Regions from separate parts of the Homo sapiens genome. Here region 2 is linked to region 1. Evidence: fine-mapped expression QTL. A gene starts in region 1. The other region holds a variant in brackets. All regions are shown on one strand. Distances are between the middles of the regions. Region 1 holds the start of C17orf58 (chromosome 17 open reading frame 58). Region 2 has its middle 28 kb from the start of BPTF.

Region 1 (5,371 bases):
GGCTGAGATTACAGGCGTGAGCCACCGCGCCTGGCCCATTAGTGTGATTTCTAAGGCTCAAGCCAGACACTGCCCAAGACCCAGGACTGGACTCTGGCAGGTTCTTCCAGCTGGTGCCACCCCAGGAGCCTCTGGGAGCCCCTGGGAGCCATCCAGCCTGCTCCCTGCCTCTACATTTCAGGGTGTGGGTTTCAGGGCATTCACAACATTCCTGCAACAGAAGAGTTTCGGGAACACCCCCAATAGGTTCTGGGTGATTTGAATGTAATGGTAAGAAGGTATGTTAGAGATGTGGTTGTAACTGAGAAATCTTAAGCCTAGTGAATTTTATTCCACTTGACTTAAAGAAAGAGCACGTGAAAGAAGGGGATCTGAGGACATCTATAAACAGGGCCCCAAGGGCATGAATTTACTAGTGTTTATCTGGTCTTGTCTAGGGTCTGGAGACCCTGACTCTGGTATACCCAAGCTTTGCAGGGGCTGTAGAGGTTTACTCTTTTGGATGGAGAATATAATTCACTCCTCTAACACCTGAATGAGGGAAGATTAGCTCATCTCCTTAGCTGCAATTTGATTTAATGCTCAACAGGCAAATTTCTTTTCTTTTTTTTCTTTTTCTTTTTCTTTTTTTTTTTTTTTTTTTGAGACAGAGTCCTGTGCTGTTGCCCAGGCTGGAGTGTAGTGGCGCAGTCTTGGCTCACTGCAACTTCTGCCTCCTGGGTTCAAGCGATTCTCCTCCCTCAGCCTCCCAAGTAGCTGGGATTACAGGTGCCCGCCACCATGACTCGCTAATTTTTGTATTTTTAGTAGATATGGGGTTTTACTATGTTGGCCAGGCTGGTCTCGAACTCCTGACCTCGTGATCTGCCCACCTTGGCCTCCCAGAGTGTTGGGATTACAGGTTGAGCCACCGCACCCAGCCAGCAAATTTATTTTCTTTGATTTAATGCTCAACAGGCAAACTTCTTTCCTCCTCCTCCTCCTCTTCCTCCTCTCCTTCTTTTTTTTTTTTTTTTTTTTTTTTGAGACAGAGTCTCACTCTGTCACCCAGGCTGGAGGGCAGGGCAGTGGCGCCACACTGCAAGCTCCGCCTCCCAGGTTCACGCCAGTCTCCTGCCTCAGCCTCCTGAGTAGCTGGGACTACAGGCGCCCGCCACCACGCCCGGCTAATTTTTTGTATTTTCAGTAGAGACGGGGTTTCACTGTGTCAGCCAGGATGGTCTGGATCTCCTGGCCTCGTGATCGACCCACCTTGTCCTCCCAAAGTGCTGGGATTACAGGCGTGAGCCACCACACCTGGCCCTGCTCTCCTTCTTCTTCTTCTTCGTTCTCCTCCTCCTCCTCTTTTTTTTTTTCTTTTTGAGACAAAAGTCTCACTCTATCACCCAGGCTGGAGTGCAATGGCATAGTCTCAGCTCACTGCAACCTTTGCCTCCCAGGTTCAAGCGATTCTCCTGCCTCAGCCTCCTGAGTAGCTGGGACTACAGGTGTGTGCCACCACACCCTGCTAACTTTTTTGTAATTTTAGTAGAGACAGGGTTGCACTAATTTGGCCAGGCTGGTCTTGAACTCCTGACCTCGTGATCCGCCTGCCTTGGCCTCCCAAAATGCTGGGATTACAGGCGTGAGCCACTGTGCCTGGCTCCTCCTCTTTCTTTTCTTTCTTCTTCTTCTTCTTCTTCTTTTTTTTTTTTTTTTTTTTTTGAGACAGGGCCTCTCTCTGTCACCCAGGCTGGAGTGCAGTGGCACAATCTCGGCTCACTGCAACCTCCACCTCCTAGGCTCAAGTGATCCTCCCACCTCAGCCTCCCAAGTGGCTGGGACCACAGATGCGAGCCACCATGCCTGGCTAATTTTTGTATTTTTTGTAGAGACAGGTTCTCTCCATGTTGCTCAGGCTGGTCTTGAACTCCTGAGCTCAAGAGATCCTCCTGTCTCGGGCTCCCAAAGTACTGGGATTACAGGCATGAACCACCCTGCCTGGCCTCAACAGGCAACATTCTGATTAATAATTAGACCTCTGGGCCCGGCGTGGTGGCTCATGCTGTAATCCCAGCACTTTGGGAGGCCAAGGTGGGTGGATCACTTGAGGTCAGGAGTTTGAGACCAGCCTGGCCAACACGGTGAAATCCCGTCTCTGCTAAAAATACAAAAATTAGCCTCGCATGGTGGCATATGCCTGTAATCCCAGCTACTTGAGAGGCTGAGGCACGAGAATCGCTTTAGTCCGGGAGGCAGAGGTTACAATGAGCTGTGATATATAATGAAACAGTTTTACTAAGGAAGCAGTGACTTGGTTTCTCTAGAAATTGCCTAACACACACATTCCAGGATACATTCTCTGTCATCTGGAATCTCCCTTCCACAAACCCACGCTGTCTTAAGCACTATTTTCCTATTTGTTGTTGACCTAATCTAGAAAAAAGCTCCCGTCACTCGTTCTCCCCCACCCAGTCCCTCAGTCCCGAAACACGCTTATTCTCTGCACTTGTCACCCCACCCTTTGCTGCCCCCACCCCAGCGCGCAAACGCACACAGGTTTAAAGTTTAGGCTGTGATGCTCTCCTCGCCCGCAGATCACAGGACAGACATTCCCGGGGACAACTTTGCAAGGCCATGTGCTCGTCCTCCTTAGGAAGGAAGAGGGAGAAATCCCTGCGGCTCGGTTTTGTTCCAATGGTCTGCTCAGCGAGTGATTCCCGTTTCCCCAAAGGCTGCCCCTCATTAGCATGAACGGGGGTGGGGGTGTGGAGAAGGGGTTGGGGGAGAGAAAGCAAGCAAAAGACCAGGCTCACTTTTAGAGCCTGGGAACCCTGTCTGCAAAAATGACAGCTAGAGCTTTCTGGCTCCTCTGTTTGATCGTCGGATCATCCCCCGAAGCACCGGTGGCGGAGAGAAAAAGTAAGATTGGTGTAGTGCGGGGCCCTGGGAGCGGAGCGGGGATCTGTGGGGGGGAGCTGGGAAGGAGGCTCAGTGAAACGTGGGACGAGGAGGGGGGTCAGAGCTCGCAAGAGAGGACACCCCGGGTCTGCGTTCGTCTTATAAAGGAGCAAAGTGTGTCCCCAAGGTTTCGTGTCTCTTGGCAGCCTTTTCGGAAAGAAGCCAATTTAGCTACTGAAATGATCCCGAGCAAGCCGGGCAGGCTGGGGAAAACTTTGCATGTTAAGTAGTTGCTCCATCACGGAGGAGGGAAAGTGTCAAAAGGGGTCGTGGCGCGCCTTTCGGGAGCCGTGCCCGGGCCGGGCTCGCAGGACGCCGCGGGGTCCGCCCCCCTCGACTGGGTGAGCAGGGGCTGCGGGGGGCGCTGTGGAGGGCTGGGGGGAAGCGGGGCCGAAATCCGGCAGCCCCGGGCACTTTGCTCTCCCCGCAGCCCCAGCGCACAACCTTGGGACACCTGAGCCGGGGTTTAACTAACACGCACACACTCTTATACTTCATGCACGAAATGAAATTAAGTTACTCAGCCCGTGAAGAAATGAGGGGTTCTCTGGGGGATCGTGTTTTTGTTTTGCTTTTATTTGGATGTTCTGTCGGCTTCGCTATCTCTGGGAAAAACAGTTTCCGTACCTCACAGGGCAATTTACTCTGGGTTATTTTTCCACATGGAAATTGAATGACTTCAGTGGCATTTAACCCAAATATCAGACAATCTTTCCCATGACAACAGATGGTTATATCAATGGGGAAGCAGTTGTGAGGTCAACAGTTGACAGTCAGGAATTGGATATCCACCAGAACTTTATTCAGCTGTGCATGGCACAACCGTTTAACAACATAATGAGTCAGAATCAACCTCTTTGCAAAAACATGAACTCTAACCAGCTATTATTGCTGGGTGAAAGCTGATTTTAAAGCAGATTATCGATTTGGCAAGACTGATCAACTTTAAATGAAGTGTTGCCAGAGCTGCAAATGGGCAGATCCATCTCTTTAATGCAAGGGGAGAGAAAAATAAAGGCTAGTTCTTGCCTGTTTGGAGGGCACTGGGACCCAGGCAAGCAAGGAGGTGAAATTGTGTAACTGGTATGGAAAGGTGCCCAGCTCCCAAGCTGGCTGAGGTTTACTCACCAACCTGTCTGCAGAACTAGGGAAAATCATTAATAATTTTAAAAATTTGTTTTCATGCCATACCATTTAGGAGTCTTTCCTCCATCATCTAATGGGGAAAAAAATGTAAGCGACGTGTGCTTTTATACTTAACCAGGGGCCTCTCTGCCTCCCAGCCAAGCTTTTAAAACCTTCCTTAGCTGTGGTTTACCAGTAAGTGGTGTCCAAGAAGCCAGATAAAAATCCACTTACAAATGCTCGATTCTGCAGAGACCGGGATGACAGTGTAAACATGGATGGGAAAACCAAATAGTTCTGTTGTCAGGGGCGCTTAAAGAATTAGGAGAACCTGTAATATGAGACCTTTCCCCCTGGGGTTTGCTCTTGGTACTTTCTCAACAAACTGTAAATAGCAAAGAGGCGGATGTTTATATATGTTTTATATATATATATATATATACACACACACACACACACACACACGCACACGCACACATACACACATATACGTATATATTAAAGGAAGGGCAAAAAAGTTTGTTATCTAACCAGTGTTGTAAGACATGTTTAGTCTTAGAGTAAATAGGGGGTTGTAATTTTAAAAGCTATAATCTTAGAGGTCAAGACCCTCGTATCCTTCTTCCTTTGGGGCCTGGGAAGCGCGTGCCCCGCTTGGCCGCGACGCTGCGTCCGGGTTCTCCCTGCTTCACTTCCAGGCCTCCGGGCCTCCCTCCCATCTCTCCTCTTGCAGGTGCCTGCGAAGCCTCCCTTGTCCTCTATCTCCTCTCCCCCTCCCAGAGCCCTTCTTCTGCAGCGCCCCTGCCCCACTAGCGGCCTCCTCCCCTCCTGGCTTCCCTTCCCCTCTCGGCCTCCCGTCTCAGCCTCCCCTTCCCTCTTCTTCCTTCTCGGCTTCCTCGGCTTTCCCCGACGGCCTCCCCTCACTGCTTCTCCTCCCCCACCGCCTTCCCGCCTCTCCTCTTCTCTCCCCACAGCCTCGCCGCCGCACAGCAGAAAGCCGGACTCCCGCGGCTGCCCGAGCGCGGAGGAGACACCGGGGCCCCGCGCGCAGCCACTCCTTGAGGCCCCGCAGCGGCCGCGCGCGGCCGAGGTCGCTCCCGCCGCCCGCGCCTGGCCTGACCCGCGCCGCCGGAAGCCCCCACCGCCGGCCGACAACCAGGCCAGCTTCCGGGAGGCCGCACGCGCGCCCGCTGGCCCGCCGGGCCCGCGCCTGGCGCAAGCCGAGAACCGCGCGTCGCCGCGCCGCGAGCCCGCGTCGGAGGACGCCCCGCGACGCGCGCGCTCACGGGCCCTGCGCTTCCCCGCC
Region 2 (5,371 bases), 200 kb after region 1:
TACCCCAAGCAATTCTAGAATCTAGGATTCGCCGGGTGCAATGGCGCATGCCTGTAATCCCAGCACTTTGGGAGGCCAAGGCGGGAGGATCACTTGAGCCCAGGAGTTTGAGGCCAGCCTGAGCAACACAGCGAGACCCTGTTTCTATAGAAATAAAAAAATTAGCTGGACGTGGTGGTGCACACCTGTGGTCCCAGCTACTGGGGAGGCTGAAGGAGGAGGATCACTTGAGCCCAGGACTTCAGGGTTATACTGAGCTATGATCAAGCACTGTATTCCAGCCCGGGTGACAGAATGAGACGATGTCTCTAAAAAAAAAACAAACAAAAATGGATTTCTTTGCTACCAGCTTCACTGTGTGCTTTGTTTCAGAGATTGAGAACTCTTTCCAAAAACTGACTTCCCTAAAGTCAGCCTAGCCTCATATCCTCAAGGCAAGCTCATCCAGCTTGTATCAAGAAGTCCCCAGCCTGGCCGGGGAGCAGTGGCTCACGCCTGTAATCCCAGCACTTTGGGAGGCAGAGGCGGGCGGATCACGAGGTCAGGAGATTGAGACCATCCTGGCTAACATGGTGAAACCCTGTCTCTATTAAAAGTACAAAAATTAGCCGGGCGTGGTGGCGAGCGCCTGTAGTCCCAGCTACTTGGGAGGCTGAGGCAGGAGAATGGCGTGAACCCGGGAGGCAGAGCTTGCAGTGAGCTGAGATCACGCCACTGCACTCCAGCCTGGGCGACAGAGCGAGAGTCCGCCTCAAAAAACAAAAAAGAAGTCCCTAGCTTTCTCAAGCTGGCAGGAGAAGGACACACAAAAAAGTCTTCAGCCTAAATGACTTACTCTCCTGTGACTCCACAGCAAGAAAACTGGATGATTAACGTCAGTGACCTCATGGTGAAGAAGACAGCATTGCTAGTGATCTAAGTGGCCTTCAAGGGGGGCATTCCCCATTACCTGACAGCTAGGAGTGCTTGGAGCACACTTGGTTCAGCTCATGCCTCCTCGCAGTCTTCAAAGAGTTTGCTTCCCGTATTTGTGAGCTGAGCAGCCTAAACTGTTTGGTAGATATCCTGCCAGCAAGACCACAATGGCAGGGGATGGCAGAGAAGTCCCGCATCCAAAGCACCGTGGCCTGGGAACTCTGCAGGCATGCCGGCTCTGTTGCTGTGAGTCTAAACAGTTCTGCAAGGCCATCATCCAGTTGGCTGAGATCCAAGCCTGCTCAAAGCTAAAAAAATGCACAGGATCGGCTGGGTGCGGTGGCTCACACCTGTAATCCCAGCACTTTGGGAGGCCAAGGCAGGCAGATCACGAGGTCAAGAGATCGAGACCAGCCTGACCAACATGGTGAAACCCTGTCCCTACTAAAAATACAAAAATTAGCTGGGCATGGTGGCATGCACCTGTAGACCCAGCTACTCAGGAGGCTGAGGCAAGAGAATTGCTTGAACCTGGGAGGCAGAGGTTGCAGTGAGCCAAGATCGCGCCACTGCACTCCAGCCTGGCAACAGAGTGAGACTCCATCTAAAAAATAAAAAAATAAGAAAAATGCACAGGTTCCTCCTCCACCAGTATAGCCATCAATGTCCTGGCAGTAGGAAACTGCGCATCAGTGCTGGGACTGGGGAGGACACTACTCAGTATGCCACTGGGCGTCCTTCAAAATCCTAAACATGGGCCCATGGAACTTTTGGTGGCCCTGTGGTCTAGAGATTGTCTCCCAAATTCATCAGTTCTTGAGTTATAGGTACACTGGATAAGGATAGACAGCAATGGTCCTAAAGGCTACTATACCCTCTCTGGGCCCTCTCCATGCCTGTGACCATCACACCATCATGGTACAGGAGGGAGTATCCTAAGATGTCACGTTTCATCCCCCGTACTGGACCTTTCCACCTGGTGCCTGGTGAAATGCGTCAATTAAGTTCTAGAGAACGCTCTGCTTCCTGACCACTGGGAAACACAGGACACCACCCGCCTTTATTCTGCAAAATTTGCATAGAGTTCACTACATTCCCGTGTCTAAAACACACTGACACATCAGCCATGGCCTCCATTCCTTGTACCTTCTAAATCATCAACCACCGTATAAGCAAACGGCTAGGACCTTAAGTGCTTGCACCTAAGGGATGCAGATCAGAATCATCTGAGAAGCTTTTAGGCCAGGTGCGGTGGCTCATACCTGTAATCCCAGCACTTTGGGAGGCTGAAGCAGGCAGATCACTTGAGATCAGGAGTTCAAGACCAGCCTGGCCAACATGGTGAAACCCCGTCTCTACAAAAATAAAAAATAAAAAGTTAGTGAGATGGCATGCACCTGTAATCCCAGCTACTCGGGAGGCTGAGGCAAGAGAATCATGTGAACCCGGGAGGTGGAGGTTGCAGTGAGCCGAGATCGCATCACTGCACTCCAGCCTGGGTGACAAAGTGAGATCCTGTCTCAAAACAGATATTTCAGGCCAGGCACAGTGGCACACGCCTGTAATCCCAGCACTTTGAGAGGGTGAG[G/A]CAGATGGCTCACCTCAGGTCAGGAGTTCGAGACTAGCCTGGCAAACATGGTGAAACCCTGTCTCTATTAAAAATACAAAAATTGGCTGGGCGCAGTGGCTCACTCCTGTAATCTCAGCACTTTGGGAGGCCAAGGCGGGCAGATCATCTGAGGCTGGGAGTTCGAGACCAGCCTGACCAACATGGAGAAACCCCGTCTCTACTAAAAATACAAAATTATTCTGGTGCGGTGGCACATGCCTCTAATCCCAGCTATTCAGGAAGGCTGAGGCAGGAGAATTGCTTGAACCCGGGAGGCGGAGGTTGCAGTGAGCAGATCGCGCCATTGCACTCCAGCCTGGGCAACAAGAGCAAAACTCCGTCTCAAAAAAAAAAAAAAATTAGCTGAGTGTGGTGGCATGCGCCTGTGATCCCAGCTACTCTGGAGGCTGAGGCAGGAGAATCACTTGAACCCAGATGGTAGAGGTTGCAGTGAGCCCAGATCTCACCATTGCACTCTCTCTGGATGACAGACCGAGACACCATCTCAAAAAGCATACAAACAAACAAAAAGGCATTTCACCAGGTGAGTGAAGGGATGCCCTGCCCTGCCCTGCCCAGAGGAGGACTTAGAAGGGTTTGGTTCCTGCCCCAGTTCTGGTCCTTTGCTTAGCCAGCCCAGCCACCCTCAAAAGCCAGCCCTGAGCATCATCTGACAGCCCAAGCACCCTCCCTGCCTCCCAATTTGATCCTCACCTGATCAAAGTTTTCTCTTCTCTCCCTGGTTCCAAACCCTGATCCCATGTCTCTTCCTGGGTCTCTTATGAATGTGAAGCCCAGTTTGCTGAACAACTTCTGGCTCAGTTTCCTCCTCCAGATCTAATGAGAACTCCCTGATTCAGGCCCCCAGTTCTGAGGATTCCACTCCTCAATTCAGCTGCCAGAGGAGGCCCAACCCCCAGCGCCTTTGTAAGGGGTAAGGAGAGGACTAAATCCTTTTGTGCTTAGCATCTGTCACTCAGCAAGGTTTCTGATACACAGTTCCATGTATCCATGGGTGCATTATACTGATCAACTGTGCTTTGCTTTATCACATCCACGTTTTGAGCTTTTGGGACATTTCCAATCTGTTGCTATTATAAATAGCTCTGCGATGAACATCTTTATTTAAAATAATTTAGTTTCCTTTTGGATTATTTCCTTTGGACTGATTCCTAAACTCAAGATAAGTGGGTTGTTTATCTGCTCTTTTATTGTCTGACCCACATGTCTTTCCATTGGGAACAGCCCCTCCTACACTTTATGGCTCTGGTGTGCCTTATTTTTTATTTTTTATTTATTTTGGTTTTTTTTTGAGACAGAGTCTTGCTCTGTCACCCAGGCTGGAGTGCAGTGGCACGATCTCGGCTCACTGCAAGCGCCGCCTCCCAGGTTCACCCCATTCTCCTGCCTCAGCCTCCCCAGCAGCTGGGACTACAGGCGCACACTGCCATGCCCAGCTAATTTTTTTGTATTTTTAGTAGAGATGGGGTTTCACTTTGTTAGCCAGGATGGTCTCGATCTCCTGACCTCATGATCCGCCCGCCTCGGCCTCCCAAAGTGCTGGGATTACAGGCATGAGCCACTGCGCCCAGCCTTTTTGTTTTATTTTTGAGACGGAGTTTTGCTGTGTTGCCCAGGCTGGAGTGCAGTGGCACAATCTCAGCTCTCTGCAGCCTCTACCTCCTGGCCTCAAGGGATTCTCCTGCCTCGGCCTCCCGAGTAGCTGGGACTACAGGTGCATGCCAACATGCTCAGCTAATTTTTTGTATTTGTAGCAGAGATGGGGTTTCATCACGTTGGCCAGGCTAGTCTCGAACTCCTAGCCTCAAGTGATCCACCAGCCTTGGCCTCCCAAAGTGCTGGGATTACAGGCATGAACCACCGCACCTGTCCAGTATGCCTTGTTTTAAAGCAAAAGTCCCATCTCTCCTATCTCAGGAGTGAGCATGTGAACTAATCTATTCACAGTAGATTGATAACCACTAACTACAAATCTCAGTGGCTCAATAGAATAATAAGTTTATTTCTTGGTTATATCACAGCTCAATGAGGGTTTTTTTGGGAGGTTGTTGGGGGAGGACATGAGAAGACTTTCCTTTAAGCAGAAATCCAAGCTCCTTCCTTTTATCGCTTCCAGTGTTCTTTAGGGCTTCCTAGGAGCCCTTGATTAGACCTGAGAATGCATCCACCATGAACAAGCAAAGAGAGAGCATGGAAGATGGGGGAAACGGGGTGCATTTTAGGATCCAGCTCAGAAGCCGTAAGCCTCTCTTGTGCCACATTCATTGTTCAGAACTAGTCACATGCTTCCACCAGATGTGAGAGTGCCTGGGGAATGTAGTTTCTCCCGAGCCAGGAAGAAATGAAACCCTCTGGTCTACACATGGCATTGTCTTTGCCAGTTAGAGTACTTCATCCTTGAACATGAGGTTGCTCAGGAATGGGCATAGGACCTAGGCAGCTCTATCAGAGTCTTTTTTTTTTTTTTTTTTTTTTTTTTTTTGAGACAGAGTCTCATGTCGCCCAGGCTGGATTGCAGTAGCACAATCTTGGCTCACTGCAACCTCCACCTCCCAGGTTCAAGCAATTCTCCTACCTCAGCCTCCTGAGTTGCTGGGATTACAGGTGCTCATCACCAAGCCTGGATGATTTTTGTAGTTTTAGTAGAGATGGGGTTTCACCATGTTAGTCAGGCTGATCTTGAACTCCTGACCTCAAGTGATTCACCCGGCTTGGCCTCCCAAAGTGCTGGGATTACAGGCATGCGCCACCACACCTGGCCTCTATTCAGAGTCTTTTGAGGGGATTGTTGGATGGCTGTGGACTCGGGGAGACTTCTGAGGACTA

Evidence for each region.
Region 2: its variant is fine-mapped to the expression of C17orf58 in whole blood (TOPMed, PIP above 0.99). The same link has a PIP of 0.9 or more in blood mononuclear cells.

What each region holds. Positions count from the first base shown.
Region 1 is chr17:67,993,653-67,999,023 of GRCh38, reverse strand. C17orf58 (chromosome 17 open reading frame 58) reads left to right here and starts at 2,555. Exons shown (of 4, transcript NM_001382359.1): 1 at 2,555-2,901; 2 at 5,040-5,371. The coding sequence starts at 2,826. RefSeq lists silencers at 3,236-3,325, 5,080-5,339.
Region 2 is chr17:67,795,092-67,800,462 of GRCh38, reverse strand. No RefSeq gene overlaps it. Among named protein-coding and RNA genes, the nearest start is that of BPTF, 28 kb to the left of the region's middle. The variant G/A (reference allele first, on the strand shown) is at 2,504.